2 linked regions of the Homo sapiens genome follow. The protein of the gene in region 2 interacts with the protein of the main gene of each other region in a pairwise test. Each region holds a gene or a part of one and is shown on either strand. Other genes may lie near its edges.

The links. The genes of interacting proteins can lie anywhere in the genome.
Region 1: the proteins of INTS12 (region 2) and GTF2IRD1 interact in binary tests that used the Homo sapiens proteins (3 or more experiments, as listed by UniProt).

What each region holds. Positions count from the first base shown.
Region 1 is NC_000007.14:74,554,902-74,561,927, reverse strand, and holds part of GTF2IRD1 (general transcription factor II-I repeat domain-containing protein 1), read right to left. Parts: intron 6,755-7,026; coding exon 6,705-6,754; intron 6,536-6,704; coding exon of another isoform or gene 6,491-6,535; coding exon 6,434-6,490; intron 4,290-6,433; coding exon 4,206-4,289; intron 3,068-4,205; coding exon 2,884-3,067; intron 2,302-2,883; coding exon 2,273-2,301; intron 1-2,272. UniProt on the Homo sapiens protein: May be a transcription regulator involved in cell-cycle progression and skeletal muscle differentiation. May repress GTF2I transcriptional functions, by preventing its nuclear residency, or by inhibiting its transcriptional activation.
Region 2 is NC_000004.12:105,691,675-105,698,700, forward strand, and holds part of INTS12 (integrator complex subunit 12), read right to left. Parts: intron 3,995-7,026; coding exon 3,842-3,994; intron 1,813-3,841; coding exon 1,625-1,812; intron 462-1,624; coding exon 302-461; intron 1-301. UniProt on the Homo sapiens protein: Component of the integrator complex, a multiprotein complex that terminates RNA polymerase II (Pol II) transcription in the promoter-proximal region of genes.

The DNA of each region.
Region 1 (7,026 bases), on a different chromosome or scaffold from region 2:
GGACACAGAGTATTAACACATCACTCACACCGAGCCTCAGTCTCCCCCTCTGTAAGGTGGGCTCTAGCGTCAACCTCCTAGCTATGAAGACTAAATGAGATGCCTCCTCTGTCTGCACTCTGCTGTAACCCTAGTTCCTCTAGAATACCACCTTGTCCCAGCAGGACCTCCCAAAATATGTGTGAAAGGCACCCGCATAAAGCACCAGTGCAGGGCCAGAAACCCAGTGACCTCTCAGCCGGGTGTCCACTGGAGCCACACTCACTGCACTGTGCTGCTGCAGCTTCCACTCTCTCCACCTTTCCAACATCATCTGACCACTCTGCCCCTCCGAGAGCTCCGGAAACACACTTCTGGCATCCAGTGACCCCCCAACCCCTGCCGTTCACCCCGCCAAACCCACCCTCCTCTCTGCCTCTCAAAGTCCCATCTTCCCCTGAGGCCCAAGCAGGGCCATCCTTACTCCAGGAAACCCTCTCCAACTACCCCTCACCCTCCTGATCCCCCTTCTGGGGGTTCCCGTGGCCTGTCAGCAGCCGCCACATCACTGTACCCTAAGTTCTTTTTTTTTTTTTTTTTTTGAGACAATCTAGTCCCGTCGCCCAAGGTGGAGTGCAGTCGCGCGATCTCGGCTCACTGCAACCTCTGCCTCCCGGGTTCAAGTGATTCTCCTGCCTCAGCCTCCCAAGTAGCTGGGATTACAGGTGTGCGCCACCACACCTGGCTAATTTTGGGATTTTAAATAGACATGGGGTTTCACCATGTTGGTCAGGCTGATCTCGAACTCCTGACCTCAAGTGATCCTCCTGCCTTGGCTTCCCAAAGTGCTGGGATTACAGGTGTGAGCCACCGTGCCTGGCCCGCCCTGGAGGCTCTGGCCAGCCCTTAGTGCTTGCCAAGTGGCATGTCGCCCCGCAGGGACAGCCCCTGCAAATCTGGGTTTGGGATCACCCTGCAGGGACAGCCCCTGCAAATCTGGGTTTGGGAGGCCAGGACACAGTCCATGGTGGAGACAGAAGTGGATGGGTGCCTTAAAAAGGGTCAGGAGGTCGGGTGTGGTGGCTCATGCCTGTAATCCCAGCACTTTGGGAGGCTGAGGCAGGAGGATCACTTGAGGCCAGGAGTTTGAGACCAGCCTAGCCAATATGGTGAAACCCAGCTCTACTAAAAACACAAAAATTAGCCGGGCATGGTGGTGCCCACCTATAATCCCAGCTACTTGGTAGGCTGAGGCAGAATAGCTTGAACCTGGGAGGTGGAGTTTGCAGTGAGCAGAGATAGTGCCATTGCATTCCAGCCTGGGCAACAAAGTGAGACTTGGTCTGTCTCTGTCTCTCTCTCTCTCTATATAATATTTTTTATTATATATATAATATTTTTAATTATATATAATATTTTAATTATATAAATATTTTTAATTATATATAATATTTTTATTATATATATTTTTTATTATGTATATATTTTATTATATATATAAAATATTTTTTTAAAAAGGGTCAGGAGAGGCACTGCACTGTTTAAGGCAGGGTAGGCGCCACCCACATCTTACCAACATGCTTGTGGTCCCCATGCAGACACCCCTCCTTCTGCGGTTAGGAACCCACTCACCTCCAACCTCGCCTATTCACTGAGGTCAACCAGAGCCCCTTTATCAGGAGGAGCAGGTGCACTGACTCGGCCTGGCCCCTCCCTCCTGAACCCAGACTGGGTAAAACTTAGAAGTCACTGACGCCACCACCCCTTTCTCTGTCCCAGGATCTGGGGCCACATTCAAGCTTAGTCTTCCTCCATCTACCTGGGGCAGGAGCCCAGGTAAGGTGGCTAAACAGAAGGGCAGAGGCCTAGGCCGGGCGCAGTGGCTCACGCCTGTAATCCCAACGCTTTGGGAGGCCGAGGTGGGTGGATCACTTGAGGTCAGGAGTTTGAGACCAGCCCTGGCCAACATGGTGAAACCCCGTCTCTACCAAAAATACAAAAAATAGCCAGGTATGGTGACAATTGCCTGTAATCCCAGCTACTCAGGAGTCTGAGGCAGGAGAATTGCTTGAATCCAGGAGGTGGAGGTTGCAGTGAACCGAGATGAAGCCACTGCACTCCAGCCTGGGTGACAGAGAAGGACTCTGCCTCAGAAAAAAAAAAAAGAAAGGCAGGGGCCTGGCTTCTGTTCCCAGACCCCAGAACCTGTGCCCCACAGCAGGCTTAGCTCCAGTCCCCAGCACCACGATCGGGCCCTATTCCCAGTGCCCCCTCCACAGCCAGTGCCTCTTACCAGGCTTTGGGATGAGTCCTTGGAAAGGCCTAGAAGAGAAACAGAGGCAGGGGTGTCATGGGGAGGGCCTGGGGGATGAGGAAGACACCCCTGGGATTCAGTGGCCTCGGTCTCCCCTGGGAGCACCCCAGACCTACAGCAGCAGAATCTGCATTTTAACAAGCTGCCCTGGGGCTCTGTGTGTGCGGGACACTGAGACAATGTGGCAGGGTGCTGGCATTGGCAGTGTCACTCTGCAGGACGCAGACCTGGGCCTTGTGCAGGCTTTGCCCTGGCTGGCCCCGGGACCTTGGGCAAATCCCTCTGATGGGGGCTGAATACCTTTCCCGGGGGCTGGGGGTGCAGTGAGCGGGTGTTGCTGAACAGGTTGAAGATGCCCTCAAAGGCTGCCCTTGCCATGGGGGGGTGACCAGTCCCACTTCTGAAGGGCTCCCTTCACTTGGGCTGGCCTGCAGTCCCTCTCCAACCACCCCCAGGACCCAGGATGGTGCCAGGAGAGCCACCTTGTCCAGGGGGGAGGGCAGGACCTAGGGAAAGGCTAAGGATTCGCAGGTGCAAGCTCCCATCTGAGCTAGTCCTGCCTCTTCACCCTCACCCTTCCCACTGAGTACCTGGTGACTGTGAACTTGATCTTGTCAGCCACAGCAAGAATCCTCTCCAGGTTCTGGGAGCCGAAGGTACAGGGCTTTCGGAACGGGATTCCTGGGGGCAGCCCCTCGATGATCACGGAGCCGGGGTTACTCTTGATCCGCTTGTAGGGGACCTGGACCGGGTACTTGATGCCCAAGGCTTCCCCTGTGGGCGAGAGGCAGGGTCCTGCCCGTCAGGAGTGAGAGGCAGCGTGGGGTGTGTGTACATGGGATTGCGGGGATGTGATGGAAAGACATGCGTGCAGGAGAGTGAATGGTACGAGAAAGCTCTTATGTAGTGTAGCACTGTGGAAAGGTATAGGCATTACAATCTGAGCTGTTTGATCAGAACATAAAAAAAAGGCCAGCATGGTGGCTTATGCCCGTAATCCCAGCATTTTGGGGAACCAAGGCAGGAGGATCTCTTAAGTCTAAGAGTTCGAGATCAGCCTGGGCAACACAGCAAGACCCTGTCTTTACTAAAAATTTCTAAAAACTAGTTGGGCATGGTAGTGCCCAGTGGGGTGTAGTTCCAGCCACTTGGGAGGCTGAGGCAGGAGGATTGCTTGAGCCCAGGAGTTTGAGGCTGTAGTGAACCATGATCACGCCACTGTACTCCAGCATGGGTGACAGAGTGAGACCCTGTCTCAAAAAAAAAAAAAAAAAAAAAAAAAAAAAAGAAACGAAAGAAAAAGCCACACCAATATGCTCCCATGTCATATGCTCCATTTTTTTTTTTTTTTTTTTGAGACGGAGTTTCGCTTTTGTTGCCTAGGCTGGAATGCAATGGCGCGATCTCAGCTCACTGCAACCTCCCCCTCGCAGGCTCAAGCGATTCTCCTGCTTCAGCTTCCTGAGTAGCTGGGACCACAGGTGTGCACCACTGCACCTGGCTAATTTCTTTTTTGTGTTTTTGGTAGAGATGGGGTTTTGCCATGTTGCCCAGGCTGGCCTCGAACTCCTGAGCTCAAGTGATCCACCTGCCTCAGCCTCCAAAAGTGCTGGGATTACAGGCAGGAGCCACTGTGCCGGGCCCTTGTCTATTAAATTCTGTGTGTAGTTCTTGAAAGTGTATCTCACCTCATTGGTCTGCAAGGCTCATGAGTACAGGGACTGTGTCTGTTTTATTCACAGCAATATCCCCAGTGCCTGAGACAGTGCCTGGCACGTAGTATATGCTCAAGAAATACATGTAAAGGGGTGAATTGTTTCCCCAGAAATGCCCTCGGCTGGAACTGGGAAGCCTCCCACTTCTCTGTGCACAGCAGCTGCGTGTCCCTCCCCGGGGGTTCTGCACTGCTTACCGTATTTCTTATTGAAAAGGTCCTGGACCTGCTCCCTTAGTGTGTTGGCGATGTCGATCCGTGAGAGCCTCGCGTCATAATTTTCTGCAAAGCGCAAAACGATTATGGGTTTGGGCTGTTGAGTGAAAAAGCACTTGGTGACTTTTAAGGAAGATGATTTTCTAATTATGGGGAACTCCTTCTCCGGCAATTAAAGGATCTTTGGAGTGGGCCCCTCAGGTCCTTCAGCACCGACATGTTGATGGAGATGTCTTTTTTTCAGAAGGACATGCACTGTTGCCACAACAGTGATGAGTTGGAAATTAAGTTAATTGATGACATTTGAAAACCACCAAACCAATAAATAAGCCCCGGAGGGGAGGGACACCATAGAGTACGGAGTCCTGTGCCCTGGGCTGGCAGGCAGGGGGCGGGGGCTTCATGAAGTCACTAGGGGGCTGGAGACAAGCGAGGGAATGGAAGCCCAGCTGATCTAGCAGATGGAGGAGGATGGGCAGTCCCCACAGACACAGGGGATGGGCCTGGCGGCTCCCAATGGAACCTCCACCTCCCAGGCTCAGGCGATTCTCCTGCTTCAGCCTTCTGAGTAGCTGGGACCACAGGCGTGCACCACCGCACCTGGCTAATTTCTTTTTTGTGTTTTTGGTAGAGATGGGGTTTCGCCATGTTGCCCAGGCTGGCCTCGAACCCCCAAGCTCAAGTGATCTGCCTGCCTCAGCCTCCAAAAGTGCTGGGATTACAGGCATGAGCCACCAAGACACCCTCACCCAGAAAGTGTTCATTAAAAACGCCCAAGTGTGACCGGGCGCGGCGGCTCATGCCTGTAACCCCAGCATTTTGGGAAGCTGAGGCAGGAGGATCACCTGAGGGCAGGAGTTGGAAACCAGCCTGGCCAATGTGGTGAAACCCTATCTCTACTAAAAATACAAAAATTAGCCAGGCATGGTGGTGCGTACCTGTAATCCCAGCTACTTGGGAGGCTGAGGCAAGAGAACCCCTTGAACCTGGGAGGTGGAGGTTGTAGTGAGCCAAGATCGCACCACTGCACTCCAGCCTGGGTGACAGAGCAAGACTCTGTCTCAAAAAAAAAAAAAAAAAAAAAGCTGGGTGCAGTGGTTCATGCCTGTAATCCCAACACTTTGGGAGGCTGAGGTGGGCAGATCATCTGAGGTCAGGAGCTCGAGACCAGCCTGTCCAACATGGTGAAACCCCGTCTCTACTAAAAAATACAAAAATTAGCCGGGTGTGGTGGCACGTGCCTATAATCCCAGCTACTTGGGAGCCTGAGGCAGGAGAATTGCTTGAACCCGGGAAGCGGAGGTTGCAGTGGGCTGAGATCACGCCATTGCACTCCAGCCTGGGCAACAAGAGTAAAACTCCATCCAAACAAACAAACAAAGACAAGTGCCAGCATGTGCTGGAGGGATCCCAGACCACCATCTCTCTCTCTCTCTCTCTTTCTTTTTTTTTTGAGACAGGGTCTTGCTCTGTCACCCAGGCTGGAGTGCAGTGGCATGATCTCGGCTCACTGCAATCTCCGCCTCCCAGGTTCAAGCGATTCTCCCGCCTTAGCCTCCCTAGTAGCTGGGATCACAGGTGCACGCCACCTCGCCCAACTAATTCTTGTATTTTTTTGGTAGACACGGGGTTTCACCATGTTGGCCAGGCTGGTCTTGAACTCCTGGCCTCAAGTGATCCACCTGCCTCGGCCGCCCAAAGTGCTGGGATTACAGGCGTGAGCCACTGCACTCGGCCTCTGATTTCTTTTCTTAAAAATAGACATAGAGACGGGTTCTATGTTGTCCAGGCTTGTCTCGAGCTCCCAGCCTCAAGCGATCCTCCCACCTTGACCTTCCCAAGTGCTGAGATTACAGGCGTGAGGTGCCGCGTCTGGCTCCTATTCTGATTTCAAAGCACTAAGACCACAGCTGATTGCTGAAAAAGGAGTGGGCGTGTCAGCTACCTCTGGGGGGTGGGGCAGGGAGGGGGCAGGCAGGCTCCTGGGCTCCCCCGACCGTCCACCTGTAGGCACCCCCTCTCCCCTGGAGTCTCTAACACAGAGCTGGCAGGGTACAGCCGGGCCTGGGCTGCCAACCTGGCTTGCCTGGTCCCTTAGGCCCTGAAGTTGGGGGCCAGCTCCTCCCCACTTCCAGCCTGGCCCTCCAAACCCAAACCAGGTCAATGTCCTGGTGCTGGGACAACAGACCTCCCCGTGAGCTCAACCTTACCTTGAAAGCCCTGTCTCTTCAGGCTCTCGTCCACCAGAGGGTCCCCGGAATCCCTCTCTGGGGGCAGGGCAGGGGGAGAGAAGCCAAGTGAGGAGGCAGTTCCTGGGACCCAAGATGGCATCGTTAGGGGAAACCCAATGTGGGGGTGTGGGGAGAATGCCAGGGCCAGGATGGGAGCAGGACAGAGGCAGCAGGAGGAGGGGCTGGTGGCAGAGGCCTGGGGCCCTCCCTTGCCCGCCCACACCATGGCTCCCGACCCCGCGCTGGGTACCTTGACTATCCATGATGGGCTCTTTGACTCCCTCAGTGAGCAGCTCGGGCCTGGAAAACACAAGCGAGGCTATCACAGAGGTCCCTCCAAGCATCTCTGGGACTGCTCAGCCCTCCTCTCTGGGCCTCAGTCTACACAGCCCTGCAATGGACCCTTCTGGCTATGCATAGTTCAGGCCTGGAGTCCCTGCCGCCCCACATGTGGAATCTGGGGGGCTGCGCTGGGCTTGAAGGATCCAGCTGGGAGTGAGACCCCCCCCAGTCCTGAACAGGTCCATCTGATATCTCACTCCTGCTCCAGGGACATTGCACGATTGTCACTG
Region 2 (7,026 bases):
TTTAAAATGTTTGTCAATACATTGACAGACTAGTAAGGAATATTCATAATTTGTGTGTCACCAATCTTGTTTTATCTATATTAGAATTAGATAAAACTAAAAAGAGAAAAATGCACATAACATGGTCTGGTCTTTAGCAATAGAAATATTAATCACATGTACATACTATACATATAAATAAATAATCAGCTTATATTATTTATTTTTTCAATATCTTAAATATTCAAATCTTTGTTTTGAAAGCACATACCAACAAAAACATTGACAGACTGTTTAAAATAAAGAAAAATATGATTCCTACCATTCTTTTCATTTGTCTGGTACATCGGGCACAATACCACACCAGGCGAGGGTCATTCGCTTCCTTGTCTGTCACCTGGGGTTTATGACAATCTCGGTGGTAGAGATTATGGCACTCCTGACATTCTACTAATTGATTGCCAGATGCCACCATCATTTGCCTAAGAAAACATACCATTAAACATTACACTACTTTTTTAAATGCCATAATTTAAAGTTATTTCAGGGGCCAGGTGTGCTGGCTCATGCCTGTAATCCCAGCACTTTGGGAGGCCAAGGCAGGCGGATCATTTGAAGTCAGGAGTTCAAGACCAGCCTGGCTGACACGGTGAAACCCTGTCTCTACTAAAAATACAAAAATCAGCTGGGCATGGTGGTACACACCTATAATCCCCACTACTCAGGAGGCTGAGGCAGGAGAATCGCTTGAACCCAGGAGATGGACGCTGCAGTGAGCCAAGATCATGCCACTGCACTCCAGCCTTGGTGACAGAGTAAGACTCTGTCTCAAAAAAAAAAAAAAAAAAAAAAAGTTATTTCCAGGTTGTTCTGGTAAAGTTTGGTATATTAAAAAGAAAAAAAATCCCAGAAACCCAAAGAGCAAATAACAAACCCCAACACTTGGCATGCACAAAAGCATAAGCTTTTAAAGCTTATGGTCAACCATTAATAAATATATAGAATGCCTTAATTAAATTTGGCTATTTTCTCGTCATTTCTCGTCATAATTTTTGCCTTTCTCTCAGAAGGTAGTAGACTCTGATTAGTCTTCCAACAGCCTCATAACATTTTGTATCTCCATTAAATTCCCTTATATTAGTTAGCTGTATGTTGTTGTTGTTCTTCATTAATATGAGTCACCTAAAGGTGAGTACTGGACCTAATTATCCACAGTCCTTAGCACATTACTGTGCACACATAGGGTGCTCAATAAATGTCTGATCAGATTAATAGAATGAAGCCATGTGTGTATAAAAAAGTATAAATTTCAACAGCACAAAAAGCAATCACCATAGCCTTAGATTATCAAAGGCATATATATCATAATATAATAATCACTTTCCCTCTGGAACCCAAAAATGCAGAAAATGTTACAACATAACAGATTTAAAAGCCATAGTTGGGAAAGACAAAATAGTTGACAATTTTCAATATGCTAAATTGTTATATGGGCAGTTACCTACTTATCTCCACCCCAGTTCCAAATAGTAAAAACAAAATAGAAAATGCACAACAATTTTTCTGATTTTGGGGGTTGAGGAGTGGAAAGGGTCATGTGTTCTTTATAAAGTAACAAAAGAATCTGTGGCAAGGTACAACTTACCTACAAACAACGCAGGCCAATCCCATCTCCATGGCAAAATCATCAGCACTGGTCTCCTCAAAACTGGAAAGGTCAGCCATAGGTAAATCCTTGCTACTTTGGACAGTAATGGGAGATGACTGTGTTTCTGGTTTCTCCAATCTAGGTTTCTTTGGAATATCAACTCCTTCAGTGATGTCTGATTTCATCTATAAAAAGCAGGCATCAGAAAATGATAAAGTAATGTGGTAGAATAAACTTTAAGTCACTGAAAGACGAGTGAGAAGGACAATTGGCAATGAACAAGTCCATTTTACAGATATATTCACATAGTTAGGGACAGATGTGCACATTAAAGATCTGTAGAAGAATTGCAATGAATTTATTAGTATATTAAATGAAACCAGCAAGATAGAAATAAATAAATCAGAACAGTTTAACAAATATTTGTATTTCTCTTTGTACTCTTCTATCTACTAAAGAATTATGGAAGATCGATGGATTTACTTAGACTAGTATCTACCATACAGACTTAACACATATTTGCTTCAAAGCAAATTCGGATTCCCTTCTTTAAGATATAAATATTATCAATATACCCATTAGATTTGGCAAAAATCAAAAAGTCTGATAAGACATGGAATTTGGAATTCTTATACTTTGTTGATGACAGTGTAAATTTAGTACATCTACTTTTGATAGAAATTTGGCAATGCCTAGTAATGTTGAAGATGTCATATCCTATTATATTCACTTATAGGTATACATCCTATAGAAACTATTAACATGACATATGTATAAAGTAGCTCACTCAAACTCCATTGTAATAGAAACAAAGGAGAAATATCTAATTGTGCATCAGTAGGGGAATGATAAACTGGTTAATCATTCCCCTATGATAAATCAGTAGGGGAATGATAAACTGGTATTATGTAGTAGCTAAAAGAAATCTAGATCTACATGCATTAACAAAGATACATTTCAAAAGCACATAGTTGAGTGGAGAAAAAGTTACCAAAGGATATACACACACACAGTATGATAACATTTACATAATTTTTTTTTTAAGACAGAGTCTTGCAGTGTTGCCCAGGCTGGAGTGCAGTGGCACAATCTCTGCTCACTGTAACCTCCGCCTGCTGGGTTAGAGTGATTCTCACGTCTCAGCCTCCTGAGGTGCTGGAACTACAGGTGTGCGCCACCACACCTGGCTAATTTTTGTATTTTTAGTAGAGAGGGGGTTTTGCCATGTTGGCCAGGGTGGCCAACTCCCGACCTGCTGACCTCAAGTGATCCTCCTGCCTTGACCTCCCAAAGTGCTGGGATTACAGGCATGAGCCACCACACCCAGCTTCACTTATGTAGATCTAAAAACAGAGAAATAATCTAATGTAGTTTATGAATAGCCACTATTTAGCAAAAGTATGAAAACATACGGGATAATATACTCCATCTTGAGGGCAAGGGTTACTGAAGATATCTTTCAAATGTATTTTTTTCTAACTACTAAAATCTTAATTACTATATGTAGAAATCATCTAAAAATAGACAATCCAAGAATCATCTTTGGCACTGTTCAGGTGCATACCACTCTATAAAGTTTATGTTTAGTCATTTACATCTATACTCTTTCCCATCTTTTCTTTCTTGCTTTCCTTTTTTTTTGAGACAGCGCCTCACTCTGTCACCCAGGCTGGAGTGCAGTGGCACGATCACCGCTCACTGCAATCTCTGCCTCCTGGGCTCAAGCAATCCTCCCACCCCCCACCCGCCCACAAACAGCTGGGACTACAGGTGCATGCCACCACACCCAGATGATTTTTGTATTTTTTGTAGAGATGGGGTTTCATCATGTTGCCCAGGCTGATCTTGAACTCCTGAGCTCAAGCAGTCTACCTGCCTCGGCCTCCCAAAGTGTATCTATCTTTTCTTCTTAACAACTGTTCCATCTAGGATCTCTGAGGCATAGATTAAAGTTTACACTCAAAGTTACTATACTCCCTAGGACTCAAATATTTATTGACAATAACTTTTAACCACTTAACTTTAAAATTTGTAAATTTTACTCATTTTTTGAAAAGTCAAAATCTATAGCTATCAATATATATTCACTGAGTGTTGATTATTATATACCTATACCCATTATTATATAAAAGAAATAGGCATAAAACATTGTTTCTTTCTGCTTATGGAACAACTAATTTACTTTCTTTTAACAAGATTAAAATAAAATCTTACTTTATCAGCAGGTCTCTTTTCAGCTTCCTTCTTTACCTTTTCAGTTGTGAGGACCTTGCCATTATTATTACCAGAAGGAAGACTGGATGATATTTTGGGCTCTTGCTTAATGGAAATGTTTTTTGTGCTTGAAATTTTGGGTGGCTCCACATCCTAAAAGATGAAAAAAGGTACCAGTAATTAAATATTTAGACTGATCATCATAAAAAAAGATCATTAATATAAACAATTTTCAGTTAAAAATTAAGACATTTCATTATAACCAATGTAATATTCCTTTCTTAAATAGTTAAATAGCTTTATTGAGAAATAATTGATATACAAACTGTACCTTTTTTATTTTTATTTTTTGGGACAGAGTCTCACTCTGTTGCCCAGGCTGGAGTGGAGTGCTGTGGCACAGTCTTGGCTCACTGCAACCTCTGCCTCCTGGGTTCAAGTGATTCTCCTGCCTCAGCCTCCCGTGTATCTGGGACTACAGGTGCACCACCACACCCGGCTGATTTTTGTAGTTTCAGTACAGATGGCGTTTCACCATGTTGGCCACACTGGTCTCAAACTCCGGCCTCAAATGATCCGCCCACCTCGGCCTCCCAAAGTGCTGGGATTAAAGACGTGTACCACCACACCTGGCCCAAACTACACCTACTTAAAGTGTAACATTTGATAAGTTTTGACATATGTATACGTCTGTGACACCATCACTACAATCAACATAATGAACATATCCATCATCTCTCCAAATTTCCTTGTGGCCCTTTGTAATTACTCTCTTACAGGTATACACCCTATAGAAAAATATGTCTCCCATCATCAAGCAAGAAAAATATGTCTCCCATCATCAGGCATATAGAAAAATATGTCTCCCATCATCATCATCACTTATCTGTTTTCTGTAACAATACATTAGTTTGCATTTCCTAGAAATTTATATAAATGGAATCATATTCTTTTTTGGTCTGGCTTCTTCTACTCAGCATATTTATTTTGAGATTCATCCATGTTGTTTAGTGTATCAATAGTTAATTCCTTTTTATTGCTGAATAATATTCCATTGAATGAATAGACTACAATTTATTTATCAATTTACCTATTGATGGATATTTGGGTTGTCTGCAGTTTGGGACTATTACAAATAAAGCTGTTATGAATATTCATGTACAAGTATTTATATATATATCTATGTTTTTATTTCTCTAGAAAAAATAGGAGTGGGTTATATGGTAAGTATTAATATATGCTTAATTACTTGAGAAACTGCCAAACTGTGGCAGTACCATTTTATATTTCCACCAAGCATATATGAGAGAGTTCCAGTTCCTTCCCATCCTCACCAATGCTTTGTATGGCTACTCTTTTTAAATTGTAGATGTTCTAATAGGTATGTAGTGATATCTCATTTAGATTTAATTTAAATTTCCCCAGTAACTAATGATGTTGAGCAGCTTTTCAAGTGTTCATATGGCATACATATATCTTCTTTGGTAAACTATTTGATAAAATATTTTGCCCATTTAAAAGAAATGAATCTGTTTGTTTTATTACTAAGTTAAAAGAGTTCTTCATAGATTTTGGGCACAAGGCCTTTATCAGATATATGATTTGCAAATATTTTCTCTCAGTCTGTGGCTTGTCTTTTCATTCTGTTTAAATTCAATTCCTTATTCATGTATTATAGCTTTGCTGATATAGATAACTTGTTATTTGTTGTCATTAATAGTATGCATAAACTTTGGCAGCTCTTGGAATTCCCCCTCCCCCAAAAGGAGGGCACTTTCCCATCATTCTAAACAAAACTAAGGCAGCTGAGTGCAGTCTATTTTACTGTGATAATATGTAAAAGTACAAAAGTATAAATGGGAATAATACACAACAATTTCAGAATAGTGGTTACCTCTGAGGGGGGAAGAGAAGAAAAAGGAAGGAGGAATGGGTCCTCAGATCTAGTGGTGGCAGGGCTTGATATATTATTATGCTGATTGTTTAGACAACGGGTTAGCAAACTGAGGCCTATAAATAGTTTTTTATAAACAGTTATATTAGAACACAGCCACACCCATTCATTTTATAATGTATGGCTGCGTTCACATTACCATGGCAGAATTAAATAGTTGCAATGGAGACCATCTGGCACACAAAATCTAGAATTCTTACTATTTGGCTCTTTATAAAGTCTGTTGATCACTGGTGTAGACTTAGTAAAGTGTTGAAGAAAATGTTAATAATGCAGATTAAACTTAAAAATGTGTGGTGGGCAGGTGTGGTGACACATGCCTGTAATCCCAGCACTTTGGGAAGCCAAGGTGGGCAGATCACTTGAGTCCAGGAGTTTGAGACCAACCTGGGCAACATGGCAAAATGCTGTCTCCACAAAATATAAAAAAATTAGCCAAGCATGGTGGCATGCACCTGTAGTCTTAGCTACTCAAGAGGCTGAAGTGGGAGGATTGCTTGAACCTGGGAGGGAGAGAGCGCAGTGAGCCAAGATTGTGCCACTGCACTCCAGCCTGGGTAACACAGTGAGACCCTGTCTCAACAAAAAACAACAGAAAAACAAAAACGTGTATTGTGTGTAACTAAAAAATTGAAGACAAAGTCATGCAGTATTAAACTATTACCTAATTCAGCAAAAAAGTTGTTCTAGTTGTTGACGGATGAGTTAAGTTTTAACTCCATTATTTCACATTTGCCTTCCTCATTAATGTAAATGAATATCAACCAATATTCATGTTAGAATACACTTGGAGACCTGGTAATGTTAGTAAGCATTACCTCCAGGTGATTCTTATCCATGCTAAAGTTTGAGAAACACTGGCATAAATCACTCTTCTTACACAAATCTAGTGATGAAAATATTCAGCTGAAGGCTAAAATTAAATGGACCTGGGCTTTAAAAACCTATAACAAAGTAGTTTCTGAAAACTGATCAAGAGAAATGAACTCTAGCTAGAAACCTAAGGGCAGCGTGCTTTTTAATCACAACAAATTTTTCATGTTCTTTAAGAGATAAACTTCCATTTTAGAACCCCATTAAAACAATTTTTTTTCTTTAGTAATAATAGGTTTCCCTATCTGGACAATACCAACACCCACAGTGGAATGAATTTGGTAGTATGTTTTGTAGAGCCATATTGATTTGGTCGATCTGAACTCACTGAACCTACTGCAATGAGAATGGATAGAAG